Regions from separate parts of the Homo sapiens genome. Here region 2 is linked to region 1. Evidence: fine-mapped expression QTL. A gene starts in region 1. The other region holds a variant in brackets. All regions are shown on one strand. Distances are between the middles of the regions.

Region 1 (5,520 bases):
TCCGTCACTGCCTGGATATAGAGCAGGAGCCCGTCGTGGAAGGATGCTGGGATGGTGTTCACCTGTAGGGGCAAACAGAGGTCGGCTGGGGTGGGCATATGAAGGGCATGGAGGTGGGAGCTGTGGGGAAGGGAACAAGAGGCACTGGGATTTTGGAAGAGGATGGGAGAAAATAACACCCCTATATCACAGGGAGATTTTACTATTTAAACGATGCCTTTGGATTAGCATCACTTCCTGAATCCTACTAGGTAGACAGGGCAGGATGTATCGTCTCCATATTACTGATGATGACCTGAGTTTCAGAGGCTGAACTTGCCAGTGTCCTCCTCCATCATCACGAGAAACATGGAACAATGGGAAGGGAGGGAAGGAAGGGGAGAACTGGGAATAGGGAAGGATGGAGGCTGGCAGAGGGTCATGGAGTGGGGGCTGGAGGTCCACGCTGGAGGGTCCCGGGACCCCTTCTTACCAGGCCATCCTCCATGGTGAAGTTGAACTGCTCATAGGCCAGGTGTTTTAACTGCTTCAGGAATTCCAAGTACTCGGGATTATCTGGGTCTTTATATGTAATGATTTTGGCAGCCTGAGAAAGGGGTCAGTGGAGAGCAGAGAGTTGGGAGCTGACTATTCCCTAGTACTGTGGGGCCCCAACAGTTGGGAGCCCACCTCCCAGAGCTGCGTCTCTGCTTAGCTCAAGGTCAAACTGGACCCTATGCCCTGCATGAAGTGATGCCCATTCCAAAGCAGGGGATCCAATGGGATGCCTTCTCCAAGTCCTGTCCAGGCTGTGGGACTTTATCCTCCTCCCGCCTCAAGCCCATTTTCTTATCTTTTTAGCCTGCTGGTGGCGAAGCGCCCCTGGGCAGTCCCCTGCCCTTCATTGCCTAATTCCCAGTGAGCATCACCAACCTCTTTTCTGTTCTGTGAGTTACCAGGAGTGCATAAAGAAACAAACAGACAAAAACCTCTTTTCTGGAATTCTTTCAGACGCTGAGGGACACAGTGCCCAGAAATGATGTGCCACAAGCTGAGACAGCCTGGGCTTCAAACCTAGGTACTCACCTGAAAGGCCTGGCGGGCACTGACATCCTGCCCATCCCCTCTCTCCCAGGGCCTGCGGGGAGCAGGGCCCTGTCCACCTTGCAGGCTTTGCCCAAAGATATCCAGGTGGAAGAAAACGTAGTCCTCCCCACACAAGCCAGCTTCCAGGGCCAGGAGCATGAGGGTTCTGAAGGCATCAGGGGAGCTGCAGATGTAGATAACTGGAGAAAGACGGAGAGTCAGAGAGAGAAGCCTAGGTACTGCGGGAGAGACAGGAGTAGGAAAGCTGGGGCACCCAAGGGAGGAAGTTTAGAGATAGGGTGCAGGAGAGACCCAGTGAGAGTTAAGTGGTAACTCCCGGCTCAGCCTAGGCCACAGCAGGAGAAAGTCGAAGGGTGGAACGGGCGGGTGCGGGGCGGTGGGCGGGAGGAGGAAGGGGGAGGCGGAAGGGAGGAAGGAACGGGTAGGGAGAGGGGGATAGTGGAGCTGAAGGTGGAGAAGGATGGGGCCAGGAGGGAGAGAGGAGGGAGAGGGAGGGGGAGAAGAGAGGGGATGAGGCGCAATGAGAGGAGAGGATGAAAGAAGGGAGAAGGCTATAGGGAAGAGAGAAAATGTGGGAGGGAAAAAGGGACCGGAACCGAGCTGTGCTAGGGTGGGAGGGAATGAGTGGGGGTCGGGGAGATGAGAGGATAGAGACGTGGTGGGGGTGGCGGAAGAAGAGAGGGAAATAGAAACTCAGCTGTAGAAAGGGCCAGGGAGCTGAAAGTAGAATGAAGAACGGCGAGGAGAAAGAAGAGTGCCCCCAGATGAGAGAGAAAGTCCCGATGCCTCCGGCAGGTCAGAGGGGAGGCCCTGCGGCTAAGCGGCGGGACGGGGTGTGCCAGCGTCTCACCTCGGCCTTTGCGCGGCATGGTCCGCAGCAGCCTGGTGTAGTGGCTGAGGTCGTCCTCGGCGAACTCCAGGTGGTCCACCGTAATATTGAGGCGGTCGCGGACCCGCATGAACAGCCCCTCCACGAGGAAGAAGCAGTGCTCTTCGTCACCCGGCCGGTAGGCGTAGAGCATGAGCGCTTGGCGCTCCCAGCCCAGCCGTCGGTGCAGCGCCGCCACGAAGTCCCCCAGCTTGGCGTAGCTGGGCCCCGCGCGGGTGGTCAGCGCATACTCGTCCTTGACACCGAAGCCCAGCGCCGGGGCGCCGGCGGTCAGCAGCGGGACCCGCCAGTGCGCGGTGAAGCGCCCCACTGGGGCGGCGGCGTACACGCAGCCGGGGCCCAGGAACACAGCGGGGTTGTGCTCCCACTTGAGGTCCACCGCGGCCAGGGGCGCTGCGGTGTCGGAGCAGACGCCCAGCGCGTTTTCGCTGCTGCCCAGCACCGTGCGGACCGTCCAGCCCGGCAGCAAGTCGGGGCGCGCCTTCACCTGGGCCAGGGCCAGCTCCACGGCGGGTCCCACGCGCGCCCACGACCAGGGGTACGAGGTATTGGCCAGCGGCAGTACCACGGCTACCGTCAGGTTGCCCGCGTGGCTGCCCCGGAGCAGCAGCAGCAGCGGCGGCAGCAGCAGGAGCAGGAGCAGGCGCAGGCGGGAGCCAGCGGGGCGCCGGGGCCCCGGCATGGCCTCAGCGGGCACCGCAGCAGGCGAGCGCTCCTACCATGGCCTCCTCGGTCCCCTTGGGCTCAGCGGCCGGTCCCAGGCATCAGGCGCGTCCCTATGGGAAGGAGCAGGAGCGGGACGGGGACGCTCACCCCGGGGCTCGAGGCCCCCTGTAGCTGCGACGGTCTGGGCCGAGAGCGCAAGGGGCGCGACCGAGGGGGGCGCGCAGGGCGCCGCGGAGCAGGTGGGTGCCAGGAGAACGTCGGGCTGGAGAGGACCCGAGTGTGAACAACTGGGAGTGTGCGTGCGTGTTAGAGAGAGAGAGAGAGAGAGAGAAAGGGTGCGAGTGAGCGCTTCGTGAAGAAGGATGAGAGAGGGCGCGCGAGGGAGGAAAGAGGAGTGTGTGTTTGTAGCGTGCGTGAGCGCCTGCCCCAGGGAGTGTGCCAGAAGGGGCGTCCGGCCGGCCCAAGTCTCCGGCTATCCGGAGGGAACCGTGGAGGACCCGAGCCAAGCTCCGAACCCTCCCTCCCAGCCGCTTCCCCTCCCAGACTCAGTGACAGAAGAGCCAATCCAGGATCTTTAACTCCTTCCTCCCCGCCGCCCAGCCCGCGCGCTTCCCCGTGGACCATCTTCCCCGGTCTCGGCCGCCCCACGCCTACCTCTTTGGAGGACAGGACCCTCTGAAGGTGCGCCCTCGCCGGGATGGAAAGGACGGCTGAACGGAGGGTGTGTGTGGAAGCAACCGGGGCCCACTTGCGCCCCACCTTTTCCCTCGCCTCCTACCTGGTCTCCTCGGGGGAAGAGGGAAAGGTGTGCTGGTTTGGGATCCTGGCAGGAAACTGAGTGAGTGCGTGGATGTGTGTGTTTGGGTGTGGGGTGGAAGGTGACGGGTTTCTGGAAAGTCCGTTAAAGTTGAAGGTGAGCCCAGAGTGCTTGTTACCCATTCCTTCTATGATCTCCCTCTCTTTCCCTCCCTGCCACCTTCCAGACTGTGCAGATTAGCTGTGAAAAAATGATCTGGTGTCAGAGAGGAATTAAATCTTTAGCGCCCAAATTGTAGGAAGATGGGGAGAGTGGGTGGGTGTCTGGGAGGGAGGAGGTTCACACCTCAGGGACGCCCCAAGAAAATGACTGTTTTGTGTTGAGGGTTGTTAAAATGAAGGCTGTGGGAGATGACCACTGGAGGCGTAAATTGGGGAGTGGGTTTTGGAGCACTTGACAGCTGGGCCCCCGGTGCAGACTGCTGTGGAATCAGTGTGCCCTCTAATGGTCATCGGGGGTTATTGACGGCATTGCAGCGCCAACCTCTCCAACGCTGCGCCTAAGCAGGACATAAGATCACCAAACTTCAGGTCAGCAAACATTTCCAGAGAACCTTCGGTGCATTAAGCACCCACTAGGTGCCGAGGGCATAAAGATGAATATATATAGTCCGTGCCTTTGAGGAGCTCCATTTGGGACAAATAACCGTAATGCAACATGCATTAAGCACTACAGGGGAGACATGGATAAATTGCTAAAGGACTCAGATGAGGGCTATTCATTCTGCTTGGATTGGGGCCAGAAAATCTCCAAAAAAGAAATAATTCAAGAGGATGGAAGGATGAGAAAGGTATTCTGTGTAGACAGAGCAGAATGTTGAAGTACATTTCCTATATATGGAATTTTAGGAGACTTGAATATTCTTATTATCTAGAGCAAATTGTGGTCGATAGGCCAACTTGAGATGGCAGGCATGCTTTGGCTTGCATTCTCTTTATGTATATTGTATTTAATTCCCCACACTTAAATATCATAAGATGGGGCCGGGCAAGGTGGCTCAAGCCTCTAATCCCAGCACTTTGGGAGGTCAGGGTGGGTGGATCATGAGGTCAGGAGTTCAAGATCAGCCTGGCCAAGATGGTGAAACCCCGTCTCTACTAAAAATACAAAAATTAGCCAGACATGGTGGCGGCCGCCTGTAATCCCAGCTACTTGGGAGGCTGAGGTAGAGAATTGCTTGAATCCGGGAGACAGAGGTTGCAACGAGCCGAGATTGCGCCACTGCACTCCAGCCTGGGCAACAGAGCAAGACTCCGTCTCAAAAAAAAAAAAAAAAAAAAGATGGTACATGAATATTTGGATTTCTGACTTTTTTTTTTTTTTCCTTCAAAGATGGAGGTCTCCCTATGTTGCCCAGGCTGGTCTTGAACTCCTAGGCTCAAGCGATCCTCTTGCATTGGCCTCCCAAAATTCCTGGATAACATGTGTGAGCCACCAGGCCCAACCTGGATTTCTGACTTTCCTTAAAATATTGGAAGAGCTGGCAATATATTGTCCTGCATCCCTCCATGAGCAATTAACCAGAGCAAGTATCCATTATCTCCTTGAAATGAGTCTAGTTCATTATGGTTCCTAGGCACCCTGCTTCACTCAGGTGCATTACCTGCCTGGCTGTAGTAGGAGTTTGTGTTTTCAGCCCTGATCTAGGATGTAAGGTGTGTGCATGTAGGATGACTGAGGAAGAGAGGCAGGGAAGAGGGCAGTGGAGGGAAGATTATGAAAGCTTTTGTGTGACAGGCATAATGTTCTTGTCCTGTAATGGAGATGGCGGATTCCAGAGATTGTAGAGGTAGACAGCAGATGCAGATGGGGAGATGTTTTGTAAGTAGAATCAGTTGAACTTTGGGAAGTGAGGACATTATACAAATAACAGATCTAGGTGATGTTGATCCCATTAGCTGAGAAGCTGAAGAAGGTTTTGGAAGGATGATACTTTTAGTTTATTGGATGTGAGGTGCCTATAGATAATCAAGTGGAAGTGTCTGATAGGCCTCGGACTAGTGGAGCTGGAGCTCAGAAGAAATGACTGGACTAGAAATATAGTTTAGTAATTGAGCTCCTT
Region 2 (5,000 bases), 63 kb before region 1:
CAACTGCTGGTAACAAATGAGAACCGAGAGTTTCATACACCTAAGGCTGCCAGTTGTGTTACCGACCTCTGTGTCGGTTTGCTGACCAGCTTGGAAAAGCAGCAGATGAAACACACACACACACACACACACACACACACACACACACACACACGCACATGCACACCCTCAGTGAGGAAAAGAGAAGTGGAGAGTCTCAAAGAAAAGTAAAAGTGACTGGTGACTGGATGGCATCTATCCTGAATGTGTCAAGAGCAGTGATGTGTCAGCCTAGGCCCCAGAGCCCCCAAGCTTCTTTCTAGAGCTGCCTGCTGGGAGAAATACCTAGACCAAGAGCTGCCTGGGCCTGAGTCCTTGACCCTTTGATGAAGACAGACCTTGACATTAGACCCTTTCCCATTACCTTTATCTATTGACTGCCAGCACCTGCACAGCTTAGGACTCTACCTTAGCCTCCCTCCTTGCCACAGTTCCCCAGCCAGGCCTGCTCCCAGCTGTTTAGTTCAGACACCAAATAGAAAATAAATAAACTCAAAGGATATAAACATTCCTAAGGGCTGCCAAGAGGGCTGATGCAAATCAAGAAGGTACAAGTGAGACAAAATCCACCCCATGCATCCTCTACTCTTTCCCAATACTGACCTGCTTTCTCCTTAACTGAATTCTCTTGTTCACCTGTTCAATCCATCCTAATCCCACCCACTAAGTCCCAGAGAGTTGGCCCTAACTCCTTGAACCTGCCTGCCAGTACTAACAGAGGCTCCTCAGCTCAACCTTCCTTATAGCAGTATTCTATTTGTTCAAGACTCAGTTTCCACACTTCTCCACCATATCCACTTCCCATCTCAGCCCATGAAGATTCAAGAACAACTAAATCTCAAATACATCCTGAGGTTTCTGTTCCAAAGGCAGAATTAACCCCAAATACAAATCCTTAGAAAACAGTCCCATTGCTTTAAGCTGAAGCCTAAAATGATGCATTACAATCAGTCCTCATCAGTAACTCCCACCTAAAACTTCTGTAGGACAGAAGTATTTTTACAAAATAATCACCCTTTTAGGGAGAAGGAGCAAAGCTCTAGGGAGATACGTCACTAATTCTTCCATCATGCTCTGACCTGGCTCAAGGTCTCTGAATGAGTCACTACTTGATAGTTCCTCACCCGCCTAAAACTGTGTCCTCCTAATTCTGTCTTTACTGCCTTTGTCTGAAGAGGCCTGACCTGGAGGCTTGGCCCAGGAAGGCTCACAGGTAGGGGATTTACTTGGAAACTTTTAGCATGTGAACATGAATGCTAGCAAAGGTGTCAACCAGCTATGAGACCCGAGGCAAATGCTTCACTTCCCCAGAGGGCCTGGGCCTCCCACATGGGGCTGTTATAGGGCAAAAAGAAGAGGAGATACTCTAGTCTCTTGCTGTGTCTGGATGGCCAAATTCATGACATAATAAGCATTTACACTGCAGAACCCAGTGGCCTCTTACTGATAGGCCAGGCAAAGAGCTAGAAATACCACACATACTCTGCCCCCTTCACTTAGGTTTACTGATTTACCCAGGTTGGTTCAGATCACCTGAAACAAACAAACAAAACTTTCCAGCAGGCAAGACTAATTTGCACTGAGATGACTAAATGGAATTTGAATGGTATTTATAAAAACCCACACACAGCCAATGATGCGCACGCACACACACACACACACACACACACACACAGAGATTAAAAAACCCACACAAGAGGAAGTTAAACTTTAACTCCATCCCATCTACTCTCATCTTTGCCAACAATTTCTTTAAAATGGATGTGCTGGACTGGATCATATCACTCTTTAAAACCACCCAACTGGAAACATTCATTTGTCTTCAAGGATCTTGATGATAAATTCAGTATAAAAATGAAACAGCAATTTAACTCGACAAGGTCCCAGCCCAGAATGGGCTTGGCTTTCCTGGGAAACCAAGAATTTGTGAATACTTGCTGCCTCACTGCCCACCCTCACCCCAGACCCTATTCCAGCTGGCATCAGAAGTACAAACAGATCAGTTTCCCATGCCCATAAATCCTTCCCTTGAGGTTAATTCAAGCAGCTATGCCAAGGAACCATGAGCATCCTGTTCTTATCCCCGGAAATGATTTTCCTTTGGTTCCCCTTGAACAAATGACACCATCTCTGACATCCAAGTTATCTCACAGAATTCAAAGAGATCACCCTGCCTAGTCCCTCACCTCAAGGAGGGAACCTACTTGAACCGTTCCACATAAAGGGGACTCTTCAGTTTGTGAAGAACCCCAGACAAGTTTTCATACAATATTCCTCAGGAAGTCTGACTCCAGTATACTCCAGTGTTCTCCTAATCACTACATTATTTACTGCATCAATCATGTAACATTAAGCTGTCTCATCTAAATCCTACCTA[C/T]TAAAATTTTAAGCCTGCTTTCTATTCACCTGCCAATGGCAGAATCTGCAAACTACAGGCCATGCTCTTCTGGATAAGAACTCTCATGGACTTGGTTACAATTGTTCTCTTCTATTCCCTGGATTTAATCCCAACCCTTTTAGCCTTGCCTCATAAATTTAAAATTTAAAACTCTGTTTTTTCACTTTCATGACTGCCATTTAGCTTCAGAATCTGGAGATAGAGAAAGGACTTTAGTCAGAGGATGACCAATTCACTGAGTAAAAAGGGACTTGTAACTATATTTGGAGAACAAGGTGATCCAGCTCTGGTCGAAGAGTTTCATACTACCCCAGTTAAACTGTAAGTTCCACCATATCCCAGATCATATATGAGGAGGGTTTATGGGTCCAGAGCAGGGTGCCTTACCTTCTGGGCTTGGGCAGGTTCAGTGAGGATGAGAGTAAACAGGCCCAGGCAGATTTCTTCATGCTGGGGGAGGCCTTTGCACACCTGGAATGTGAGAAAGGAAAACAAACTAGTTGTCACTCACAGGCAGTAAGTTCTCAAACTCAGTTTCTCCCAGAAAACATGGGACTCCTAAGGAAGATGCAAAGGAGAATAATCAACTTTTAAATCTGATGATTTCCTTCTCTTAAAAGAGATTTTTAAAAAAAGAAGAGAGATAAGGACGACAGGTGTGGTGGTGCACACCTGTAGTCCCAACTACTCCAGAGGCTGAAGCAGAAGGATCGCTTGAGCCCAGAAGTTCAAGGCTATAGTGCACTATAATCATGCCTGTGAACAATCACTGCATTCCAGCCTGGGCAACATAGCGAGACCACATTGCTATAAAAATAAAAAGCTGTACTGAAAGATGCCCAAGGCTCCAAGAGATAGGCTCCCACAGTAAAAGAGAAGAATTGAGAAATTTGATTCAGGGAGCCAAGACTTGATGAATTTCAGTCCCCTACCCCCAACCACTTAGTCTTTCCATCTTTTTGACCATGTTTCAAGACCTTCACAGCAGCAGCAGTGGCTGCAGGGACAGCATTCTACTTACATACGCATTGAGGGCATCATTGGCTTCTCTCTCCGAGACACCAGCAGTCATCGATGTCACAATGCTCATACACCTTTCCAATCTCTGGGAAGGGGTGAGAAAAAATGAACAGTGTGTCATAACACCACTTAGGAAGTACTTCTGGGCCCCTAAAAGTTTAACAATTCAAACCTGATCATGCCCATTGATCTAGCTGCCAGTTTACTTATAAAGTCACCATGAGGATAAAACCAGCAAAATCTAAAATGTGGAAACCATAAACAGGTGACCTGATTTCTTTAACACATAAATCGCAAGAAAAAAAGTGAGGGAAACCCATATATTAAGAGACTTAGGGCCAGGCGTGGTGGCTCATGCCTCTAATCCTAGCACTTTAGGAGGCCGAGGTGGGCAGATCACCTGAGGTCAGGAGTTCAAGACCAGCCTGGCCAACACGGTGAAACCCCGTCTCTACTGAAAATGCAAAAATTAGCCAGGCGCAGTGGCACATACCTGTAATCCCAGCTACCTGGGAGGCTGAGGCAGGAGAATCTCTGGAACCCGGGAGGCAGAGGCAGCAGTGAGCAGAGATCGCGCCATTGCACTCCAGCCTGGGTGACAGAGCGAGACCCTGTCTCAAAAAAATAAAATAAAATAGGGCGGGCACGGTGGCTCACACCTGTAATCCCAGCACTTTGGGAGGCCGAGGCAGGTGGATCACAAGGTCAGGAGTTTAAGACCAGCCTGACCAACATGTGAAACTCCGTCTCTACTAAAAATACAAAAAATTAGCCGGGCATGGTGGTGTGCGCCTGTAATCCCAGCTACTCAGGAGGAGGAGACTGAGGCAGGAGAATTGCTTGAACCCGGGAGGCAGAGGTTGCAGTGAGCAGACATCATGCCACTGCACTCCAGCCTGGGCGACAGAGCGAGACTCTGTCTCAAAAAAATATATTTTAATAAAGAAAATAAAATAAAAGGGACTTAGGCCAGATGCAGTGGCTCACGCCTGTAATCCCAGCACTTTGGGAGGCTGAGGTGGGCAGATCACCCGAGGTCAGGAGTTCGAGACCAGCCTGGCCAATATGGTGAAACCCTGTCTCTACTAAAAATACAAAAATTAGCTGGGTGCGGTGGTTCACACCTGTAATCCCAGCACTTTGGGAGGCCGAGGGGGTTGGATCACCAGAGGTGGGGAGTTCGAGACCAGCCTGACGAACATGGAGAAACCCCGTCTCTACAAAAATTAGCCTGGCATGGTGGCACATGTCTGTAATTCCAGCTACTCGGGAGGCTGAGGCAGGAGAATTGCTTAAACCCAGGAGGCAGAGGTCGAGGTGAGCCGAGATTGCATCATTGCACTCCAGCCTGGGCAACAAGAGTGAAACTCCGGCCGGGCGCGGTGGCTCACGCCTGTAATCCCAGCACTTTGGGAGGCCGAGGCGGGTGGATCACGAGGTCAAGAGATCAAGACTATCCTAGCCAACATGGTGAAAAAACCCTGTCTCTACTAAAAATACAAAAATTAGCTGGGCATTGTGGCACACGCCTGTAGTCCCAGCT

Direction of the effects. Positions count from the first base shown, and alleles are read on the strand shown. Sizes are in standard deviations (SD) of each study's normalised expression.
As copies of C replace T in region 2, the expression in esophagus muscle of the gene that starts at base 3,078 in region 1 goes down (small effect, 0.17 SD a copy in GTEx).

Evidence for each region. PIP is the estimated chance that this variant, and not a neighbour inherited with it, causes the effect.
Region 2: its variant is the best candidate, but not a certain one, in a credible set for the expression of NPR1 in esophagus muscle (GTEx, PIP 0.52).

The regions. Positions count from the first base shown.
Region 1 is chr1:153,676,246-153,681,765 of GRCh38, reverse strand. It overlaps NPR1 (natriuretic peptide receptor 1), which reads right to left and starts at 3,078. Exons shown (of 22, transcript NM_000906.4): 1 at 1,937-3,078; 2 at 1,066-1,265; 3 at 473-586; 4 at 1-62. The coding sequence starts at 2,657. RefSeq lists a silencer at 2,278-2,337 and enhancers at 1,879-2,859, 2,860-3,841.
Region 2 is chr1:153,739,193-153,744,192 of GRCh38, reverse strand. It overlaps INTS3 (integrator complex subunit 3), which reads right to left. Exons shown (of 30, transcript NM_023015.5): 2 at 3,459-3,542; 3 at 2,825-2,908. Among named protein-coding and RNA genes, the nearest start is that of INTS3, 14 kb to the right of the region's middle. The variant C/T (reference allele first, on the strand shown) is at 2,417.